Regions from separate parts of the Homo sapiens genome. Here regions 1 and 3 are each linked to region 2. The links come from fine-mapping of genetic effects on gene expression. A gene starts in region 2. Each other region holds a variant in brackets. All regions are shown on one strand. Distances are between the middles of the regions. Region 1 overlaps LOC105376615 (a long non-coding RNA gene). Region 2 holds the start of QSER1 (glutamine and serine rich 1). Region 3 overlaps QSER1 (glutamine and serine rich 1).

The links. PIP is the estimated chance that this variant, and not a neighbour inherited with it, causes the effect. A credible set is the group of variants that fine-mapping cannot tell apart.
Region 1: its variant is the best candidate, but not a certain one, in a credible set for the expression of QSER1 in whole blood (INTERVAL, PIP 0.61).
Region 3: its variant is the best candidate, but not a certain one, in a credible set for the expression of QSER1 in prefrontal cortex (CommonMind, PIP 0.51).

Annotation. Positions count from the first base shown.
Region 1 is chr11:32,987,956-32,992,199 of GRCh38, reverse strand. The region is part of intron 2 of LOC105376615 (a long non-coding RNA gene); the gene reads left to right. Among named protein-coding and RNA genes, the nearest start is that of DEPDC7, 26 kb to the left of the region's middle. The variant G/A (reference allele first, on the strand shown) is at 2,026.
Region 2 is chr11:32,890,352-32,894,595 of GRCh38, reverse strand. QSER1 (glutamine and serine rich 1) reads right to left here and starts at 1,785. Exons shown (of 13, transcript NM_001076786.3): 1 at 1,262-1,785. The coding sequence starts at 1,470. RefSeq lists silencers at 1,013-1,412, 1,493-2,112 and an enhancer at 2,860-3,434.
Region 3 is chr11:32,969,993-32,974,236 of GRCh38, reverse strand. QSER1 (glutamine and serine rich 1) reads right to left here. Exons shown (of 13, transcript NM_001076786.3): 11 at 688-840. The region is part of intron 2 of LOC105376615 (a long non-coding RNA gene); the gene reads left to right. Among named protein-coding and RNA genes, the nearest start is that of DEPDC7, 44 kb to the left of the region's middle. The variant TG/G (reference allele first, on the strand shown) is at 2,174.

The DNA of each region.
Region 1 (4,244 bases), 98 kb before region 2:
AGAAAAAAGACATAAACCTTTAGAAAACAAATAGCAAAATGTCAGAAAGAAACCCTACTTTATTATAATGACATTAAACATGAATGGATTAAAAACTCTACTCAAAAGACAGAGATTGGCAGAATGGCTTAAAAAAAAGCATGATCCAACAATATACTGTCTGCAAAAGATACAGGTTAGATTCAAAGACATGGATAGGTTAAAAGTAAATAAACATTATCAGGCAACTAATATGTACTTAACAGTGTGCTAGGATTGAGGTATAAAAAGAGAAATAGGACACTATTACCTGTTTTCAATTTCCATATGGTGGGAACAGCTAAGATGTCTAAAAACAATTCCATGGCCATGTGAGAAGTGATAGAAAACAGGATGCTCAGAATTATTTGGGATCACAGGAGGAGTTTCTCAGACTGTCTGAGGGAAAATAGTAGTCTTCTCTATGGAGCTATGTTAAACTTGAGTGTTAAAGGATGTTTACTGGATAGAAGAGGAAGGGGAGGAGGAAGACTTCTTGGTAGGCAGAAGAAATATGGTCAATAAAAGCATGAAAGCATGCTTAAAATGGCGTGCTCAGCAAAAACAAAGAAAAAAACTTGTGTAGCTTCAGAGTTGTGTCTATAATTATAGAGATGGGAGATCTAATGGGAAACTAGGTAGGAAATATAAGGTGGGCCACATCATGACCAGTCTGGTAATCAAGGAGACAAATTCTGGTGACAGTGTGCAGATTAGATTGGAGGATTACGAATCTGGGGGCAAGCCAGATGCGGTGGCTCACGCCTGTAATCCCAGCATGTTGGGAGGCCAAGGCAGGCAGATCACAAGGTCAGGAGTTCGAGACCAGCCTGGCCAATATGGTGAAACCCCGTCTCTTCTAAAAATACAAAAATTAGCTGGGCGTCGTGGCATGTGCCTATAGTCCCAGCTACAGGCTGAGGCAGAAGAATCGCTTGAACCCAGGAGGTGGAGGTTGCAGTGAGCCGAGATCGTGCCATTGCACTCCAGCCTGGGTGACAGAGTGAGACCTTGTCTTAAAAAAAAAAAAAAAAAGAATCTGAGGGCAAGGAGACCAGTGAAGCATGAAAGAGACAGGTGATAAGGACTTGGTCTAAAAAGTACTATTAGTTTGTACTGAAGGGAAGTTAGATGGAGGTGGGGAAGGGAAAGTTGAACAGATTTCTTCCTTCCTTCCTTCTATGCGTATTTCTTCTGCACCTATTAATTGATGTGTATGGTGCTCAGTGAATGTATAGAACTAGGTGGATGATTAGATGTGGTCAGAGAATGAAAGTATCAAAAATGATTTCTATTATTTCTAGCTCAGTCAACTGTGGATAGGGAGGGTATCCTCACTTTTAAAATCAAGGTAAAAGAATTAGAGGAAATTTCCAAAGAATTTAATTTATCAATATATCAAACTCAAGACCTTTTATAACTGATGGCCATTAATTTTGGTAAAAAACACATAGTATAGACTTTTACCCTCTTAATCTTTATTTATTTATTTATTTATTTATTTATTTATTTATTTATTTATTTATTTTAGACAGGGGCTCACTCTGTCACCAGGCTGGAGAGAAACCACATGATCATGGCTCACTGCAGCCTCAATCTCCTGGGCCCAAGCAATTCTCCCTCCTCAGCCTCTCAAGTAGCGTAGACCACAGGCATGAACCAACATGCTGGGCTAATTTTTTCTTCTTTCTTTTCTTTTTGTAGAGATGGGGGTCTCCCTATGTTGCCCAGGCTGGCTGTTTAACTATTTTAAGTATACGGTTCAGTGGTGTTAACTATTTTTCACTTTCTTGTGTACCAGATCTCTAGAAACTTTTTATTTTGCAAAACTGAAAGTCTGTATCCATCCCACAACTCCTTTTTTCCCCTCTCCCAGCCTCTAGGAACCACAATTCTGTTTCTATGATTTTGACTACTCTATATACCTCCTATAAGTGGAATCATACAGTATTTATCTTTATGTTACTGGCTTATTTCACTTAGCATAATGTCCTCAAGGTTAATCCA[G/A]GTTGTAATATGTGGCAGGATTTCCTTGTATTTTTAAGTCTGAATAATATTCCATTGTATAGATATACCATATTTTCTTTATCTGTTCATCTGTCAATGGGCATTTAGGCATTTTTGTAATTGTGAATAATGTAATTAATATGGGTATGCAAATATCTCTAGACCCTGCTTTCATATCTTTTGGATATGTATCCAGAAGTGAGATTGCTGGATCATAAGGTAATTCTATGTTTAGTTTGTTGGGGAATATCCTTACTGATTTTCCATGGTGACTGAACCATTTTACATTGCCACCAGCAATGCACAAGTGTTCCAGTTTTTCCACATATGCACCAACACTTATTTTTTTTTCTTTATACAATTTTTAAAAAATATATAGAGTCTCACTGTGTTTCCCAAGCTGGTCTCAAATTCCTGGGCTCAAGTGATCCTCCTGCCTCGGCCTCCCAAAATGCTGGAATTACAGACATCAGCCACTACTCCCTTCCCTCCACTCCCCTCCCCTCCACTCCCCTCCTCTCCCCTCCCCTTCCCATCCCTTCCCTTCCCATGGCCATCCTAATGGGTGTGAGGTGATACCTTGTTGTAATTTTGAATTGCATTTCTTTAATGGTTGGTGATGATGAGCATTAATTCATATGCTTGTTTGTATTTGTATATCTTTTTTGGAGAAATACGTGTTCAGGTGCTTTGCTTGTTTTTTAAATGGGCTACTTTTTTTTTGTTTTTGAGTTGTAGGAGTTCTTTATGTATTCTGGATATTAACCTTTTATTAGATGTGTAATTTGTAATTATTTTCTTTAATTCTGTAAGTTGCCTTGCACTTTGTTCTTTCCTTTGGTATGCAGGAGTTTTTGAGTTTGATGTAGTCCCATGTATCTATTTTCACTTTCATTGCCTGTGCCTTTGGTGTCATATCCAAGAAATCATTGCCAAGTACAATGTCATGAAACTTTCCTCCTATGTTTTCTTCTTCTAAGAGTTTTATAGTTTTAGGTCTTATATTTAGGTCTTTAATCCATTTTGAGATAAAATATCTTATATAGTGTAAGGTGAGGTTCCAACTTCCAACTTTCATGGGTGGATATTGTTCTATCAGCACCATTTGTTGAAGACACTGTCCTTTCCATATAGTGTGGTTGTGGCACTCTTGTCAAAAATTATTTGTGCAAAAGAACAGAAGAAAATTCAGTTGACCATATACATGAAGGATTATTTCTGGGCATTCTATTCTGTTCCATTGGTCTGTGCATTTGTCTTTATGTCAGCACCACACTGTTTTAATTACTATAGCATTGTAATGTGTTTTTAAGGGAGGAGACCACCCCTCATATTGTCTTATGCCCAATTTCTTCCTCCAAAGAAAGAAGAAGTAAAAACTAAAAGGTAGAAATGGAATCCACAGGCAGATAGCGCAGCACCACGCCCTGGGCCTGGTAGTTAAAAATCAACCCCTGACCTAACTACTTGTGTTATCTATAGATTTCAGACATTGTATGGAAAATCATTGTGAAAATCCCTGTCCTGTTCTGTTCTGTCTGATTACCGGTGCATGCAGCCCCCAGTCATGTACCCACTGCTTGCTCAATCGATCACGACCCTCTCATGTGGACCCCCTTAGAGCTGTAAGCCCTTAAAAGGGACAGGAATTGCTCACTATGGAAGCTCGGTTTTTGAGATGTGAGTTTTGCCGATGCTCCTGGCCGAATAAAGCCCTTCCTTCTTTAACTTGGTGTCTGAGGGGTTTTGTCTGTGGCTCGTCTTGCTACATTTTGAACAGACTGCAATATTGATAGGGTCATTACTTCTGGTATTTAGCAGATGATTTAATAGAAATTCATCTGGGGTCCTGCTGTCATTTATGGCAGCAGTCCCCAGCCTTTTTGGCACCAGGGACCAGTTTCATGGAAGAAAATCTTTCCACAGACCAGGAGTGGGGGTGATGGTTTTGGCATGAAACTATTCCACCTCAGATCATTAGGCATTAGTTAGATTCTCCTAAGGAGCATAAGATTCTAGATCCCTTGCACGCGTGGTTCACAGTAGGGTTCTGCTCCTATGAGAATCTAACGCCGTGACTGATCTGACAGGAGGTGGAGCTCAGGCAGTAATGTGAGCAATGGGGAGTGGCTGTAAATAGAGACCAAGTTTCACTTGCTTGCCAGCCACTCACCTTGTGCTGTGTGGCCTGGTTGCTAACAGGCCACAGACTGGTATCG
Region 2 (4,244 bases):
CTTATTTGCTCAATCATGAACGTAGAACTTTCGTAAAAACAAAGAAGATAACCTGGAACACGGTAATGTATAAACTTAAAACAAAAGTTCACTTCTGTCGTGAAAAATAATGAAGAAATCTGATGAGATCATAAAGCCACGAAGCTTCCTGTTGGTAGCTGAGGATGAAGTCATTAGCAACCCAGGATTCCCTGGTCCATGTAATCAGAAGCTGCACCTACCAGATTCTGTATTGTTCGGGAGAGGTGGCTTTAAAACACCCCGCTCACCAATTCTCCAAACCAGACCACGCCTTCCAGTTATCATTCAAATGGGACCGTTTCACAGTGTGGCACTACTACACATTTCCCGCGAGCTTAAATATCAAGTAGGAGTCAAAATTTTAGATTCCCTTGGTCATGCAAGATGAACTCTTGAACCCCACGCTACATAATGCACCCGGACCTTAAAGGCCGAGATGGAGAAGCATGCTTTGGTTCTTCAACCTTTACGGCCTTCACTACCCCCACCCCAACCCCCGCCCCATTTCTTCCCAACTCTCAGTCACCCCGAGGCATAGAAGGCAAAGAAAGATTCCTTACTTCCTGCTGTTGTTAAAAGGGGAGGAAACCTAAGAGCAACTTTGAACGCGTGGAAGAAAAATCGCCTAAATCTTGGCCACCAGCGCAAACATATGTCACCCGGCCCTGGAGCCGCGTTCGCGCCCTGCCGGGCCCCCTCTTCTGCCCTGCGCCCCGGGGATTCTCCCGTAGCCCAGCCCTCCCGGGCCCCCCAGTGTCTCCGGGACGCGGTTCCGCGACTCTTCCTCTCCCGCCTCCGCAACCCTCACACGCCGGAGTCCCCAAGACCGCATTGTCGGCCACCCAGGTTCCAATACAATGGATCGCCACTGCCCCAAACTCTCCGGCGCCCCCTTCGGACCCCCGGCGCCAATCCTGGGTCTCACAGATCCCGAGTTCAGCCACGAGCCCAAACTTCACCATGTGAGAGCCCAGGACCCAAGAGGTGACGGAGCCCCACGACTCCCGCCCAGCTATTCCTTCACCCGCCGTCCCCAGGCGCGAATCCTGCACCGGGCGCCCCCACCTACCCGCGACCACCCCGTAGGAGTCATCAGCCGCCTCCCCCGAGCTGGCCGAGGGCGAGCGGAGGGCTCCCCGCCCGGCCCAGACCTCTGGGCGGCGCTGCAACCGAGCGAAGGCCCCAAACGCATCCCCGGCCTTTCCTGGTCCACCGCGACCCCGCCGCCCACCCTCCCTACCTGGCCTTGAGGCTGGGGCTGCTGCCGCTACTGCAGCTGCCACTGCTGCAGCTGCTGCTGGCGGCGGCGGCGGCGGCTCGGGGTTCGTACGCCCAGGCTGGGGCGGGGGGCTGCGCAGCGGCGCTGGCGGGGACGGGGGCGGCGGGGGGCGCGGGCGGCGGCGGCGGCGGCGGCTCGGTGAAGCCCGAGGTCGCGTAGTTCCTGTCCATCGTGGGGGTGGCGTAGGGAGGGCGGGCAGCAGCGGGGGATCCTCCAGGGCTCCGTGTGACGGGGGCGGGCAGGGAGAGGGGGCGGGGGAGGAAGAGGGGGCGGCGGCGGTGGAGGGAGCTGCCCCCTCACATGGCCCCGGCGAGCAGGCGGGAGAAGGGCGCGCTGGCGAGTCTGGGCCGCAAAGACCCGGGCCGCGGCGGGCGGCGAGGCCCCAGCTGGGCGTCAGGGAAGCGGAGGCACCCGCGGCCGGGACTCGCGGCGACGGCGGCGGCGGCGGCGGCCGCTGCGCCCCATGTTGGTGGATTTCCCAGGATGCACCTCCCGCCCCCCTCCGCCCCGCGGCCTTGCCCCGCCTCCCCTCTGAGCCCCGCGCTTGCCGCTCGCGGGGCTGGCGGGCGGCCGCGAGGCCTCCGCCACCGCAGGACGCTTCGCGAGGGACAGTTGGGGCCGAGAAGGCGCGGGTCCTGCGGGGCCCGGCCGACTTCAGGGACTCCGAGGGGCGCCCGCCAGCCGGAGCCCGCGAACCGCAGACTTCCCGCCTTCCGCAGCCCGGAAGGGAGCTGTCCGCACTCGCCGCGGCCCGCGTGGGAAGGGACCGCGCCTGGCTATCGCCCCGCGCGGGGGAGGGGAAGTGGAGTGGAACCCAGCGTAGGGCGCTGCTCAGGGGTAGCCGGGTCAACGCTTTGCTTGGAGCTCACTATTTGACCCTTCGGGTTATTTTGAGGGACTCCAGTACTCAGTTCCCTGATCGCGATTTCTTTCTCTGCGCCCCAATCCAGAAACAGCTGAGCGAGCTCTTTTGCAGTTCCGCTTACTCCCTCCCCAAAGCTTGCTGGGCTAGAGGACCCTTTTCCTGCTGTTAGGGGAGATTTATATTCAAAGAGATTCAAATTCAAACGTATTATTTTCCAATCCTCGCTGAAAGGGCCTTTCCCAAGGGCTCTTATTAACTGTCCCCACCCCCACCTTGGGGATTTTTCTCGCTCTGGGTTTCAGAATCTTCTATCCCAAGATAGATAACCACCTCTTCATTGATTAATCCAACTACCATCTGGATGACTTTAATTACAATAAATTTAAACTCACCATGCACTCTGATGTTGAGGGGTTTTGTTTGAGACTTGGAACTTCAGCAGGACTCTCTCCCCAAACATTTCCTATCTGATCTCCAAGCTGCTTGGTGTGCGGTAATTTAATGACTATTTGCGGTTCTTCTGTTGCATAGCAGAGTTGTATTTCTTGTAATAACTCACAAGTATTGAAACTAGGGAATCGTACAAATCATCGTTTGGCCCTTGGGCCATAAATTTAAAGGTTAAAATAACAGTAAAATTTCTATTTAATGACCACCTCCTTTTAAAAATCAATATTGGTTTAACACCTATTATGTGCTTAGCACAGAAATCTATCCCTCAAGATAAGCATAACATAAAGGTTTAAGCAAATCAGCCGTAGTGAAAGACCTAATAAACTTGATACGCTATCTCTGATGACCATTGAAAAAGTTTAAACTTTGGTAATAATCTGGTGTTGGATCTGCTATGCCTTGCGAGATTAATTTTGTTCTGGAAGATCCTGTTTTCCTCCTGGCGCCTACATCCTTTTGTTCCTATTCATTCCTTTTTGCAAGTCTTTCTGCACCTGTGATGCTTGGAGCCTGGTCCCCGGGTGGGGAAGCAAGGAAGTGAGTAGTCGTTATTTACACATGAATTCAAACGTGTAGGCACAGCGACTTTGCCAATTTTATGTTAATTACAAAATGCATTTACTGAGGATATCTTTGAAAAGTGGTTTTTCTTTGAAAAGGAATTTGCGAACTAATCTGAGTTCATGCAGAGAAGTAACGTAAATCTTCATTACATTTATTTTTCTTCCTGCAAACTGGAAATGTGGGATCTAAATTAAAAAGTTTTCACAACTAGCTATTATATTTATAAGTACTTTTGTGAGCGCTAAAGTTTTGTCTCTATGAAAAGTATAGGAAATGGAGTGGCATGCTATAAATGTTTTATGACACTTAGTTTGAGATACCCACAACTGGCACTCAGAGTGAGTTACGCAGGCAATACCAAACAAGTGGCAATAAAACCTTTATAGTCCCTCACACCATTATGTAGTTTGTTTATGTCACATAAATCAGGGAAAGATATTAAGGGAAAATTCTAGTGAGTATTTTTAGTAATATTACTCTGTCACCATATGTTCCTTTGCCATTTAAATGAAATTTCCTTAGTTCACTCTAAATCAGTACAATTATATTTATTTTCAAATGTTACATGTCTACAAATAACATCATTACATTTTTTATCAATACTATTTTTAATTGACAAATCATAATTGCATACATTTATGGGGTACAATGTGATGCTTTGATATATGTAAATAAATCTTTTAAAAATTTTGTACACTTGATGATACTATCTGAAGAATGTCTTCTTCCCTACTGAAAATATACTTCCAGCTCTGTGAACGTTTCGGGATCTCTCAAATGATTCGTAACCAAGCTGCTTCAAGTCTGATCTAGGTAATGTCAAACTCTAGAATGAGCATTGTTGGTCCCGTGTTTTTGTTTGTTCGTTTTTTCAGACAGTCTCGCTCTGTCGCCCAGGCTTGAGTGCAGTGGGGTGATCTCGTCTCACTGCAACCTCCGCCTCCCGGATTCAAGCGATTCTCCTGCCTCAGCCTCCTGAGTAGCTGGGAATACAGGCGCATGCCACCACGCCCAGCTAATTTTTTTGTATTTTTAGTAGAGACGGGTTTCACCATTTTGGCC
Region 3 (4,244 bases), 80 kb before region 2:
GTTGCCAAGACTGGTCTCGAACACCTGGACTCAAGTGATCCTCCTGCCTCAGCCTCCCAAAGTGCTGGGATTATAGGCTTGAGCCATTGTGCTTAGCCCTGAATACATTTTTGCTGTGAAGTTGATATGTTGCCAAACTGTTTTCTGAAAAGGTTATAACAATTTATACTATGTTTGAAGATGAACAAATTCCAATTTTAATGACTTTGCAGATATGAAATAAACATTTCATCTTTTTATGGAATGTGTTCTGCACACTTACTTATCTATGTGCATGCATATACAATTAAAAATATACCTATATTACAAGTAATGCATATGTTAATGAGTTTGAATTAGCCATTTCACAATGTACACACATTTCAAAACATTTTGTACATAATATATGCAATTTAAAAAATGAAAAACTACCTACAAATATATAAACATGAGCACGAGATGATTTCTTCCATATTAGTCAATTTAAGAAATTTGTGAGCACATATTATATGCCTGATACTGTGCTATAGAAAAACAATAAACCACCATGCGTCCCTGTTCCTCAGGCCAGTGACGCTTATTCCTACCTGAAAAACCTTCACACTTAATGACAACATAGTAAAATATTTGCTTGTTTCAATGTTTTAAGTAGGAATTGTATTAACAATTGGAAAAGGTATAGTTACATTAATAATCAATTACACTTACTTGTGCAGATTTGGTGGTTGTTTTAGAAGTCCTTAGAGTTTTCTTATTATAGGCTTTGCCATTCATTTTGATTTTAGAAATAGCAGTTCCTCCACTCTTTGCTTTAGAATCTCGAGTAATTATTGTTAGTTCAGGAAAACTTTCCAAAGCATTCTGGAAAACAATGAAGCAAAATAACTGACACCAGAAGAAAACTAACCTAAACTACTTCTAGCTATCTAAAATTTAGAAGTGTGTGTGCACACAAACACCTATTTGCAGAGAGGTGTGTGTGCACACAAACACCTATTTGCAGAGAGGTGTGTGTGTACTGATGGGATATGCATACATATACATACACAGGTTGGGGTTTAAACATGGTCATAAGCTCTTTGCAGCCCTTCCTATTGGATATGTAATCTATTTCCCTTAAATCCCTTAAATCTGAGCCAACTCTATGACCTGCTTATTTAAGCAACAGCACACCACACTGGGAACCCTTAACAGGGCCAAGAGTTCTTTCTAGTAATGTCTCTGGCTTCAAGGCAGGAGAAAGGAAGACATACATGTTTCACTAAAGCCCTACCACTTAAACCACTGCTTGCCCCGTGAAATGTGGCTGGGCCTTGCTATAAAGAAGTCATCTGCCTCTGGTGAAGATGACGACAGAGGAGAAGCGGCACTGTAGTGCTTCTCTGGCTTCACTCTTCTCTTGCTTATTTTGACTGCAAGACAAGTACTTGTAAGATAAGATCCTAAAACAGAGCATGATGGGTTTTTTGACAGTGGTTATGTGGCAAAACCAATTCCACTCCATCCTTTAAAAGCCACTGGTGGCCAGGAATGGTGGCTCATGCCTGTAATCCCAGCACTTTGGGAGGCCAAGGTGGGCAAATTACTTGAGGCCAGGAGTTCGAGACCAGCCTGACCAACATGGCAAAACCTTGTCTCTACTAAAAATACAAAAATTAGCTGGGTGAGGTGGTGCACACCTGTAATCCCAACTACTCAGGAGGCTGAGGTAAGAGAATCGCTTGAACTCGGGAGGCAGAGGTTGTACTGAGCTAATATCATGCCACTGCACTCCAGTCTGGGTGACAGAGAGAGACTCTATCTCTAAATAAATAAATAAATAAATAAATAAATAAATAAATAAATAAATAAGCCACTGGCCTATTTATGCCCTTACCTACTTGGCAAATCATTCTGCCTGACTGAAAAGCTACAAACAATAACTGAATGATACTTGTGGCAACATTTAACTAGTTTGATTATGACTTTATAAAAATTAAATCGAGCTCCTACCATCATTTATTATTTTGACACTAAAAATGTTGAAGTCCTCCTATTATATTTATGATTCAGAATGCAGTCCAAATTCGATAAGCGCAAGTGTTTTATAAACAGTTACAACCTTTAAAGCCACTCTTCTCCAAACTCATCTATTGTTTCCAAGCACCTGGTATTGGGGCCCTGAAAACAGTACTGTTTTGTTTTTTTTTTTTTT[TG/G]AGATGGAGTCTTGCTCTGTCATCCAGGCTAGAGTGCAGTGGCGTGATCTCGGCTCACTGCAAGCTCTGCCTCCTGGGTTCACGCCATTCTCCTGCCTCAGCCTCCCGAGTAGCTGGGACTACAGGCGCCTGACACCACGCCCGGCTAATTTTTTGTATTTTTAGTAGAGATGGGGTTTCTCTGTGTTAGCCAGGATGGTCTCGATCTCCTGACCTCATGATCCGCCCACCTCGGCCTCCCAAAGTGCTGGGATTTCAGGCGTGAGCCACCGCGCCAGTCCCGAAAACGGTACCTTTTTAAAAACAGGCAACCTAAATTTTTCTTAGTATAAGTGTAGAAGGGCACTAAATTTCATTTGATAGAAACAATAACACTTTTGGCATTTTCTACCACAGTGAGCTACCATCACGTTCGAGCTTCGTTCCTTTCTCAGATTATTTGTGCACTTATCATGTACTCTGGTGTTTTCTATTTAAAACATGCACCTTGACAATTTTTGGATCCAGAATTATTATTTGCAACAAATAGAATTTAAAGTCTAAAGATTCTAAATTTGGAAACAACACACACTAAGTCAGTGGAGATGAAAGAAGAAAATTTAAATCTTTCCAATGACCACAAAATGCTTAAGATGATCTGAAGTACACAGATTTCAGAAAAAGGCAGAACATCATTACCTTGAAAAAGCTTCAGGACTCCTAACATCACCAAGATCAACATAGGAAAGCACACTAATTATTTCTAAAGAACAGAAAAATCTTTCTTTCTCTACTATTTGTAATATTTTACTTCAGATCAGTCTAACTCTTAATATTATGTAATTTTGCTTTGAAATGCAAATTGCTAAGGCTGGGCATGGATTACACCTGTAATCCCAGCACTTTGGGAGGCAGAGGCAGGCAGATCACTTGAAGTCAGGAGTTCAAGACCAGCCTGGCCAACATGGTGAAATCCTGTCTCTACTAAAAATACAAAAATTAGCCAGGCCATCCCAGCCACTCCAGAGACTGAGGCAGGAGAGGAGGAGGTTGCAGTGGGCGGAGATCGCGCCACTGCACTTCAGCCTAGGAGACAGAGCGAGAGTCTGTCTCAAAAAAAAAAAAAAAAAAAAAAAAGCAAATTGCTTTATATGACAATTATCAAAATTAATAACTAATAACAGAATTAGAAATCTTGTTAGAGAACTGGTTTGACATTTCAACAGTGATTAGCCAAACCTGGTAATTTTTAAGATTTAGTAAATCTTTAGAAAACACCTATCTAAAAATGTTCCCTTGTCTCCACAAAATATAGTATTTCACAAGAGAATATTTCATTTATTTAAAGGCAGCAGTTAAGCAGAAAACACTGGGCTAGGGCTGGGTGCCGTGGCTCATGCCTATTAATCCCAGCACTTTGGGAGGCGGAAGTAGGCGGATCACTTGAAGTCAGGAGTTCGAGACCAGCCTGACCAACATGGTGAAACCCTGTCTCTACTGAAAACACAAAAATTAGCCAGATGTGGTGGTGCATGCTTGTGGACCCAGCTACTTGGGAGGCTGAGGCAGGAGAATCTCTTGAACTCAGGAGGTGGAGATGGCAGTGGGCTGAGATCACACCACTAGACTCCAGCCTCGGCGAAAGAACAAGACTCCATCTCAAAAACAAAAACGAACAAACAAAAACTGGACTAGGAGTCAGGAGACCAAATTCTTAGTACTGGATTTCTTACTAGCTTCTAAATTTTTTTTCTTCCTGCGAATACATGGCAGTGAAGAATACATGACTACTATGATAGTTTTGTGTCATTTAATTTTGAATGCAATCTAATGGCCTCAGTTTTCACCTAATTGAAATGAAGTCAATACTCACTTTTACATGGAGTTCACATAAAACAGGGATGTGAACAAGTTATACAAATGTATAATATTGTTACCATCAATTAAAAAATGTTCCCTAAGGTAGATATAACCAAATGATTCTTGATGTGATATTATACTTTGAATAAGAAAGGCTACGGAGTAATCATTCTGTGATTCTCTCCCATGTGCACGTTAATAAATTTGCATGCCTTTTCTCCAACTGAAATA